2 separate regions of the Homo sapiens genome follow, and region 1 is linked to region 2. Evidence: fine-mapped expression QTL. Tissue or cell type: whole blood. Region 2 holds a variant in brackets; the other region holds the start of a gene. All regions are shown on one strand. Distances are between the middles of the regions.

What was found. PIP is the estimated chance that this variant, and not a neighbour inherited with it, causes the effect.
Region 1: TLR8 starts here. The variant in region 2 is fine-mapped to the expression of TLR8 in whole blood (TOPMed, PIP above 0.99).

What each region holds. Positions count from the first base shown.
Region 1 is chrX:12,904,016-12,909,168 of GRCh38, reverse strand. TLR8 (toll like receptor 8) reads right to left here and starts at 2,549. Exons shown (of 2, transcript NM_138636.5): 1 at 2,460-2,549. The coding sequence starts at 2,462. It overlaps TLR8-AS1 (TLR8 antisense RNA 1), which reads left to right. Exons shown (of 5, transcript NR_030727.1): 3 at 836-953; 4 at 2,918-2,979.
Region 2 is chrX:13,488,171-13,493,323 of GRCh38, reverse strand. No RefSeq gene overlaps it. Among named protein-coding and RNA genes, the nearest start is that of EGFL6, 79 kb to the left of the region's middle. The variant A/C (reference allele first, on the strand shown) is at 2,034.

The sequences.
Region 1 (5,153 bases), 580 kb after region 2:
AATTGGGGCTACTAATTTAAAAATAACAAATCCCTCAACCCCATTTAATAACCCAGATGAACTCAGAGATGTTGCATTGGAATGACGTTCCCCTCAATGGAACCTGGAGGCGACACTATGATGCACTTACAAATAATGTCCAACTGCGTTTCAAAGACTAACTGTGGGTAATGACATCCTTCCCTGTGAAACACACCCTAATATTCTGTGAGTCTGGGGTCTTCCATAAGACTGCTTTCTCTTTCATAATCTCTGAGATTCTTAGATTATTATAATGAAAGGATGAGAAGCAGTGATTGAAAGAGGAGAATGAACTCCATCAACTGCCCTCACTCTTATCTGCAGTCTCAGCTTTTCAGAGAAAGCATACTTAGAACTTCTATTTTGCTTTCTAAAATCAAACCAAGGTGGCTGGTAAATACATTTCAGCTCTTCCTGGAGCATTTCTAGCCACCTAAAAAAACGGACTGTGCTTTTTAACAAAAGGACCAAAAAACTGTTGATGTTCTAAGGCACTGATTCTTAACTTTGGCTGCACAGTAGAGATACTTAGGAACTCTAAAAGCTACAAATGCCAAGCCCTGTATCCAGAGATTTTGGTTTCATTGATCTGGGGTTCAGTCTGGGCAGCAGGAGTTTTGAAAGCTCCCCCTCTGATTTGAGTCCATTGCGAAGGCTAACAACCTCTGCCTTTAGGCAGGAGGTCAGCCAGGTCCTTGACCTCCATTGGCCACCAGTGGGAGCAAAGTGGCCATTTTTTGCAAGTTTAATTTGATTTTATTATTACTCTATTTACCAATCTGTTGTTGTTGTTGTTGTTGTTGTTTTGAAACAGAGTCTTACTCCGTTGCCCAGGCTGGAGTACAATGGTGCGATCTTTGCTCACTGCAACATCCACCTCATGGGCTCAAGCGATTCTCCTGCCTCAGCCTCCTGAGTAGCTGGGACTACAGGTGCGTACCACCACACCTGGCTAATTTTTGTATTTTTAGTAGAGACGAGGTTTTGCCGTGTTGACCGGGCTGGTCTCTACCTACTGACCTCAAGTGATCCGCCCACGTCGGCTTCCCAAAGTGCTGGGATTATAGGCGTGAGCCACCGGGCCCCGGCTATTTACCACATTCTTACAGTACAATTATACTGGCTATCACAGCAGCTTACAAATATCAAGTAGGAATTGGATAATTTCAACTGCAATCCCATATGTGTCATTGGCCCAGTTGACCGAATTCCATATGGGCCACCTACAGTCATTTTGTAAAGCATTGTAAAATTTTAGTGCAGAATTAATTTACCTTCAAGATCCATAATGAACATTAGGTGGGTATAAAAATTAACTTCAGGCCGGGCGCGGTGGCTCATGCCTGTAATCCCAGCACTTTGGGAGGCTGAGACAGGCGGATCACCTGAGGTCAGGAGTTCGAGACCAGCCTGGCCAACATGGAGAAACCCCGTCTCTACTAAAAATACAAAAATTAGCCAGGCGTGGTGGCACACACCTGTAGTCCCAGCTACTTGGGAGGTTGAGGCAGGAGAATCGCTTGAACCCGGGAGGCGGAGGTTGCAGTGAGCTGAGATCACGCCACTGCACTCCAACCTGGGTGGCAGACCCATTAACTTCAAAAGACTTAAGTGTACTTTAAATTGTTGTCAAAATTAACTCCAAGGACTTTGGGGAAAAATATATAGTACATTTTGGATGAGACTCTCTTGAAATCAGACTTTTCAATTGCTCTTAAACCTCATTGAATTTTCTAGAAAATGTATCATTTAAAAAGAAGTGTAAAGTTCATTTTTAGTCTGACAGTTCTTGACAATAACAAAAACGGACCACCTGCTATGTCTTGACAGTGTAAAATAATAATTACAGAAATTGTAGCATGTTATTAGGTTGGTGGAAAAGTAATCACAGTTTTTTGTACCAACCTAATTATTTAAAACTCTGACCAAGAAAAGTAGCAATTAATGTCGAACTTTAAGCCTCCAACAGTAGGTTAAGCTCAGGCTTCACTAGGATCTAGCAATTGACCTATGTATGTGAAGGAAGAGAGTTTGTCCTTTTCTACAGAAATAGCAAAGGAAGAATATTTCCCTCACCTTCTCTTCCAACCCTGTTGTTCTGGAAGAGGATATTGTCTCTGGTAGGGCCAGTAAGTAATATTTCCAGTTCAATTTCTAACTTGAAATTTTCTTATTTTCCTGTCCAAATTAGTAAGATCATCACTGCATTTGATTTTCAAAATTTACTCTCTAATTCCTTTATACTAACGTGTGCACAAATTAAAGATCATAGCAAGCCGCTTTACCTGCATTTACAGTTGTTTCGATCTTTAATTTTTATCCTTATTTGCCCATTTATTACTTTCTAGGCTCACACCATTTGCCACCAACCCAGATTTCTGGGTCAGAAACCCCATATTCTGTTGGAAAGCTTTGCTAAAGAAATAGAAGTGGCTTACCATGTTTCTGTTGTTCTAATTTTTCATTCCGTAACTTGCAGCAGCGCAGAATGGTACCCTCTATGCAGGAGGTGGCCGAGAAGAGAAACTGGCTAACTTCCTGAAATGGCTCTATTTACCATCAGCAGAACGTAGCGTGTGTTTTACAGAAGTTTACATGAAAAGAAGGGAACTTGTGATTTCTTAGCTGTTGCCAAATCATTAATTGACTGTGCTTTAAAACTTTGAAACTGAAGTTATGGGAAAAAGTCATTTATGAAATGATTTAAATACAACCCAAATCAGACACACACGACGTATTTTTGTTAGTTTTTGTGTATTTGTGTGTACAGGGGAGAAAAAGGGAACATTATTCCATTCACTAAGAAAACTTCAGTGTATTCTTTTTTAAAAAAGTTACCATAAATTTGTACTGAACTTCGGATTTCTCAAACTCGTCTTCCTTGTGTAATTCACAGATGTAGGCGAATAACATGAACATTGCTTCATCTTTGTTCCACAAGTTTCTGAGACAGCACCGGTAGGTATGGGTCTCCCTCCCACTGGGCTGTGGCCGCAAAGCGAGCATCTTTCTCCTGGGCGCCCCATGCCTCCTCCAGCACCTGGCATGTAGTATAAGCTCAATGAGTGTTCATTGTATGAACGAGTGAGTCAATGGCTGAGCATTCGTGAGGCTGGAAAATTTAATCTTCCCGATTTAGTCTGATAAATGGATTCCATTTTATGCTCGGAGAGCAAGGGCCTCAAAAGGTGTAACCAAGAGCAGAGGTCAGCAAACTGCAGCCTTTGAACGAAATCCGGCCCAGAAGTGAAAACATTTTTAGATGAACATTGGCAATGGATTTGCTGATACAGAACACTAACTTTAAATTCCAACCAAGCAGAATGTTAGCACCTCCAAAAATGATTCCATTCTTCTCATTATTAAACCTATACTACAAAAAAACTGCCTTCGATTATTATTATTACATTTTGAGTTTCATCAATTACATAATTGTGGAAATTTTTATTTTACTATATAAGTAGCTACATAATATGCCAAATTTGCTTCTTGGCCTGTAAAACCTAAGATATTTGCCATCTGGCCCTTTACAGAAAAAGTTTGCTGACCCCTGGCCACAAGAATAAAGTTTAGAACGGGATGTGATATGTTTCATCTTGCCTTACACCCCAGGAGTGGGAGAAAACCAAATTGGCAGCAGGGTGGGCAGAGATGACATCCATATATAAATGGACTGTGGAACACCTTGTTATGAAGGAAGGCCTGTCAGCAGTCAAAGAATGGCTTGGGTGGGTATACCTAGATGGACCTCTAAAGATCACACCCTAAGGGAATTCAAGACCTGGTGCATGGTTTGAGAGGTGATTCCTGTGACATCAGAGAGTGCAGCCTGGGCCTTCATGGGCAAACCAAAAACATTTGTGATTGTAAACCCAAAGGCCTCGGCTGGCCGCATCCAAGTCTCTTGGTTTCCCTCCAAACATTTGCTTGGAAATAAAGTAAAGAAAGTAAGTAAGAATGGATCGAGTGCAGTGGCTCACACCTGTAATTCCAGCACTTTGTAGAGGCCGAGGCAGGAGGATCACTTGTGCTCAGGGGTTTGAGACCAACCCGGGCAACATGGCAAAACCTTGTCTCTAAAAAAATACAAAAATTAGCCAGGCATGGTGGTGTGCACCTGTAGTCCCAGTTACTCGGGTGGCTGAGGTGGGAGGATCGCTTGAGCCCAGGAGGTGGAGATTGCAGTGAGCCATGATAGTGCCACTGCACTCTAGCCTGGGTGACAGAATGAGACTTTGTCTAAAAAAACAAACAAACAAACAAACAAAAAACAGCGAAGTAAAAATGACTTCCAGCCGTTGACTGAGCAAGGATCCTTGGAACTGGAGAGTTTGTCAGCTTTCTAGAAAAGCGAGACTCACATACCCTGGCTTCTAGGCCACCAAGTGTCAGCCAATTGTAGACCAGTCAATTGGCCTTGTAAAGCATGCTTGTATACGTATATATATATATGTGTGTGTGTGTGTGTGTGTGTGTGTGTGTGTATCATCATGTATATATGATATATATATATTTTTTATGTACATATGCATGTTTATATGTATATATACACACATACAGTCTAGTATCTATGTCAAGCAAACTCATAAAAATGAGTTACTTACTTATACCAAATGAGCCTTCAGTTTTCTCCACACAACCAGTACCATAAAAGATGAAAATGAAAATGGAATTGACACCAGGGCAGGAAGGTTACTGAGAGGAAGAAGCTCCATCTGCTTGTAAAGTAGCCAGATGATTGGCTTCTGCCCAAGCCCAGAAACTGGTCCTTGGTGGCCAGGTCTGCTCTCCCCACCCTGCACTGTGAGGCCAAAAGCTCCTGGGCATCTCCTAGACCAATCTTTCCTTACTCTTCCCCTTGCCATCCATGCTGACACAGATCTTGATTCCAAAATGGAGAAGACCTGTCATGAACCGCTTCTGCCAGGCAAGCCTGCCAGACAACGTGCACTTCCCAGACACACAAATCACCAGCAGACAAGCCTCTCTGAGCCTTAGTTTTCTCATCTGTCAAATTGGGATAAGAATAGTAGTATCTTTCTCAGATGTTGGCTTTGAGGATTAAATTGTTCATATCGTGGAACTCTTAGAAAAGTAGCTGGCACAAAGTGAGCGTTCAACTAGCAGAGCTG
Region 2 (5,153 bases):
AGATACAAATTCCATAATAAGGGAAAAAGATTTTTTAAAAAGCAAAAGTTAAGGCCGGGCGTGGTGGCTCATGCCTGTAATCCCAGCACTTTGGGAGGCTGAGGCGGGCAGATCACTTGAGGTCAGGAGTTTGAGACCAGCCTGGCCAACATGGTGAAACCCCTTCTCTACTAAAAAATAGAAAAGTTAGCTGGGCGTGGTGGCATGCGCCCCTAGTCCCAGCTGCTCGGGGAGGCTGAGGTGGGAGGATCACTTGAAACTGGGGGCAGAGGTTGCAGTGAGCCAAGATAGTGCCACTGCACTCCAGCCTGGGTGACACAGTGAGACCCTGTCTCAAAAAAAAAAAAAAAAGGCAAAAGCTAAAATATGGGGCTTTATGGAAAAGTATTATAAAATGGGAACAGCTGGTGTGCAGTTATTATCAGCTAGAACTTCAGAATTGCTTCAGCAACACTTAATTTTGCTCCTTATGGAGAAACCAGCCTGCTATCTACAGTCTCTCAATTACCATTACCTAGGAAAATTTCTGAGAAATGTCTTGATATGACTTTTCTGCCATGTTACTCAAAGTTTGGCAGCTATAGTTTACTTAATGGGTTTTCTGCACCATTAGGAGTTTCATGTAGGTTACCCATTTAATACATTTTTAAAAAACCATCATAATTTTAAAAATATAAAGAATAAGTTTTGATATTTAATAATAATAGATTCATACTAGTGAAAGGGAAGACATTCTTTGTAGTCTACTATCAAAGTGGCAGAGACTGGCTAGTTGTTCACCAAACCATTTCCTTTCCTCTCTTGGACACATGACCAGACTACATCTCCCAGCTTCCTTTGCAGTTAGGTGTAGCCATGAGACTGAGTGCTGGTGAGTGAAAGGTGAGGGGAAGTATGGGCTCTATCACTATCTAATGGTGCTTCTGGCTCTACAAAAATGAATGAGGGGTTTCTAGTGTGGGCTTCAAAACTAATAATTTATTAAGATATCATATTCGTAAGCGTTACCAGCTGTACAGTCCCAACATTTGGATTGGGGTAGGTGTTAATCTGCTTATCCTCTGATCCTCTTCCTATTTCCCCAAAACCTGAGGTGCCTGAGCAGAGGGCCTCTGAGACAAATGTTGATATACAAAGAGTAAGTCCTCTATATTTTTCTTACAATTTATCAAGAAGGAAATACTGGCTGGGCTTGGTGGTTTACGCTTGTAATCCCAGCAGTTTGGGAGGCCAAGGCGGGAGGATTGCTTGAGGCTAGGAGCTCGAGAACAGCCTGGGCAATATAATGAGACTCCCATCTCTATAAAACATTTTTAAAAATTAACCAGGCTTGGTGGTACGTGCCTGTAGTCCCAGCAACTCAGGAAGGCTGAGGCGGGAGGATCACTTCAACCCAGAAGTTCAAGGTTGCAGTGAGCTATGATCATGCCACTGCACTCCAGCCTGGGTGACAGAGCTAGCCCCTGTCTTGAAGAAAAATAAAAATAAAATAATTTTTAAAAATATAAAAGAAGGAGATATTGAATCTTGAGGAGCAAAAGCTTTTAGCCCGAACAACTGGAAGCTTGGAGTTTCTTTTATTAAGAATGGGGTAGACTGCAGTACAGGCAGGTTCTCTTTTATACAAACAAGGTGCCCCTCCCTAAGCCCTCCAGGTATTGCTTTGGGATCCACAGGGAAAGGAGGGTCCTGTACTCACAGATATGAAAATCTGAAGATGTTATGCATTCTTGGGCAGAATATCATATAGATGATATTGTATCTTTTTCAGGGTAACACATCTGGAGGCATACCATATTTTAATTTAGCTGCCCTTCATTGGTGATTTTAATTTAGCTGCATAGTATTCCACTGTGTGGATGCACCATAGTTGATTAACCAATGTCCTATGCTTTGACAAATATTACTGCAATAAATAACATTTTGCATATGCATTTTAATATCGTTAGAGGTGTATTGCAGTGTAAATTTCTACAAGTGGCATTGCTAGGTGGAAGGGTAAATGGATATGTGGTTTTGTTAGATATTGCCAA[A/C]TATCCCTACATAGATATTGCACAGTTTTGCATTTCCTCTAGCAATGAGAGTGCTTATTTCCCCACAGTTTAACAACAGAACATGTTGTCAGGTTTGAGTTGTTGCCACTCTGATAGCTGAGAATGGTGTCGCAGTGTAGTTTTAGTTTGCATTTCTTTTGTTATGAATGAAGCTGAGCATCTTTTTGTAAGTTTAAGAGTCATTTTTACATCTCTTTTTGCGAATTGTCTGCTCAGGACTTTTGCACATTTTTCTGTAGCATTTTTGGCCTTTTAAAAGTCAACTAAAAAAGTCCTTTGCATGGTAGGAATTTTAGCTCCTTAGCTGTAAGATTTGTTGTAAATTGCTTCTCCCAGGGCAAGCTTCTCCTCATAGGGCAAGAAGAGCTTCTTCTTGCGCTTTGTCTTTTGATTTTCTTTACATCATTTTTTGCTGTGCAAAAAATATTTTAATTTTTATGTTGTCAAATTTATTAATCTTTTCTTACATCCGCATTTTTAGTTGTAGTTAGAAGGCCTTTCACTGTACCCTAAAAATCATTTTTACTTGGCAACTACTATGTCCAAGGCATTAGATGAGATGTTAAAAGGAAAACAAAACTGAACAAAACTCAGCCCTTATGCTGAAGAAAGTATGGATCATAGCTTATTTGTCCTCAATTCAAAAACAGAATTTTTATATTCAGGATTTGCGTACAAATAGGTTGCATGTAATCTTGACCAGAACTCCAGAAATCATTTTTTCTATAGCAGAAACCAACATACATCATCAGACAAATGGGATGGGTTTAGTTCTGCAATTTGCCAGCTGTGCAAATTTGGACAAGTTGCTAAACTCTGAATCTCAATTCCAGAATCTAATAATAACACTTTTCTTGTAGGATTGTTTGGGGAATTAAAGGAAATTATGTACAAAAAATGAAAAAATGCTTACCACAGTGCCTGACACACAAGAAAAGCCCCATGAAAGAAAGTTCTATTATTTTGTCTATACAGGTCTACTTTCTTCTAATTGTCCATCTTAGTACCCCATCCACCCTGGCCACATATATGAACTCATAACCTAGGCAAAGGCAATCGGAAACTTTCCTTGGGATTTAAAACATAGGATTTAAGAGAAGGCATCCTTTTTTCTTTTGGAAGATGGAGGTGGGGAAATATGAACCCAAAAGTGGCCAGCAGCCATGGTTTCTTTCTCATAGGAAAAGCCAATCTCAAGAGAAAAGAGAATGAAATTAGCACTGATGAAAGATGGAGAAAACTTTGATGCAATTTAGCCTCTTGATTCCTGTCCTCTCTGAGATCTAGCTGCACTTCTGACCTTAATGTTGATTAACATAGGCAGATAAATCCTCCCTTGGTCAAGTTGGGTTCCGTTACTTAAATCCAAAAGGGTTCAAGTGATAGATGTTTGAAACCAGATTTTTTTTTTCAGCAAAGTGTTTAATTAATGCAGAGCTAGCGAAGCAGAAGGATTGGAGTTATTATTTAAATCAGCCTCCCCAAGAATTCAGATGGTAGCGTTTTTATGAATAATTTGGTGGGCAGAGGGCTGGGGAATGGGTGCTGCTGATTAGTTAATGATAAAATCATAGGGGTGTGGAAAATAGTCCTTGTGAGCTAAGCCTGCCTCTGGGTGGGGGCCAAAGGACTGGTTGAGTCATGAGTCCCGAGTTCGGGTGGAGTCAGCCGGTTGCTAGAATGCAAAATGAAATCAGAAATGTTTAGAAACATCTAAGTAGGTAGGTAATCCAACTATGACCCTTTGATAATGGGATGAATTCAGCTATAAAGAGGCTATATAACAAAATGCCTTATAAAGTACAAGGTATGACTTTTGTAGAAGATGATAAAAACACTTTTGAAAGTAAAAACTAGGGAGAGAACAAATACTGAAGCATTAATATCGATGTTGTTTGCGGCCTTTCATTTCCAGTCATTTCCATTTGCAAAGTATTAATTATAACCGTGATTAAGTTTGCCTTGTAGATTGCATTTGGATGAACTCTAAGGCAGATGTGCAGATTCATTATTTTATATCTCAGTTAATTTACATGTCCCTAGGAAAGCACATTAAATCATACAACTCATCTTTCATCAGAGTTGAACACTTGTATTTATTTGTTTTAAATTCGTATCTTCATGCAAAGCCATTGCCTTCCATCTCCCTAAGTGAGAACTGTATTTTATTTTTCTTTCCCAAAGAAACAAACTCAGGAATCTAATAATGAACCCAAATTGGTTTACTGGGAAAGGACAGGGAAACAAATGGAGATGCTGTCCAAGTATGCTGCCACCCAAGGAGAACCCTGCTCCCAAGAAGTCGTTTTATTTCTAAGCAAATTGTCCTGAATATATAAAGCTCACAGGCCCTCTTCCAAACCACAATTTTCTCTCAGCAGGACATCTGAAATGGAATTGTGATTGCTGCCTGTGCTATCCCTCAAGTCTCTCTCATCCGACACAGAACCCAGCCTAGTTAAGACGGTCAAAATCCCAAGTTTGGCTTCCCTATTTAATGTGTAAAATGTTTCCTTTTTTGTTTTTTGTTTGTTTGTTTGGAGATGGAGTCTCGCTCTGTCGCCCAGGCTGGAGTACAGTGGCACAATCTTGGCTAACTGCAACCTCTGCCTCCCGGGTTCAAGCGATTCTCCTTCCTCAGCCTCCCAAGTAGCTGGGATTACAGGTGCCCACAACCATGCCCAGCTAATTTTTGTATTTTTAGTAGAGATGGGGTTTCACCATATTGGCCAGGCTGGTCTTGAACTCCCGACCTTGTGATTTGCCCGCCTCAGCCTCCCTAAGTGCTGGGATTACAGGCCTGAGCCACCGTGCCTGGCAAAAATGTTTAAGTCTGATTTACATGGAGCTGGAACGTTTCCTTTGAAATTAAAAACCAAAAATCACAGATGACAGCAGAGGGCACCCTTCCCTCTCATATGCAGTTGACACTCTCACCACCTGGGGAAAAAGATTTTGTTTTTCTGGGTTTCTTGGGGTTGACAATGGACACACACTCCAGTTTGAGATGACACACCCGTTACTGGTTGATCCTGTCTCTCCCCATTCCATTTTCCTTTCCTCTCTGAGCTGACTGACCTTATCTTTGGGGAACCACAG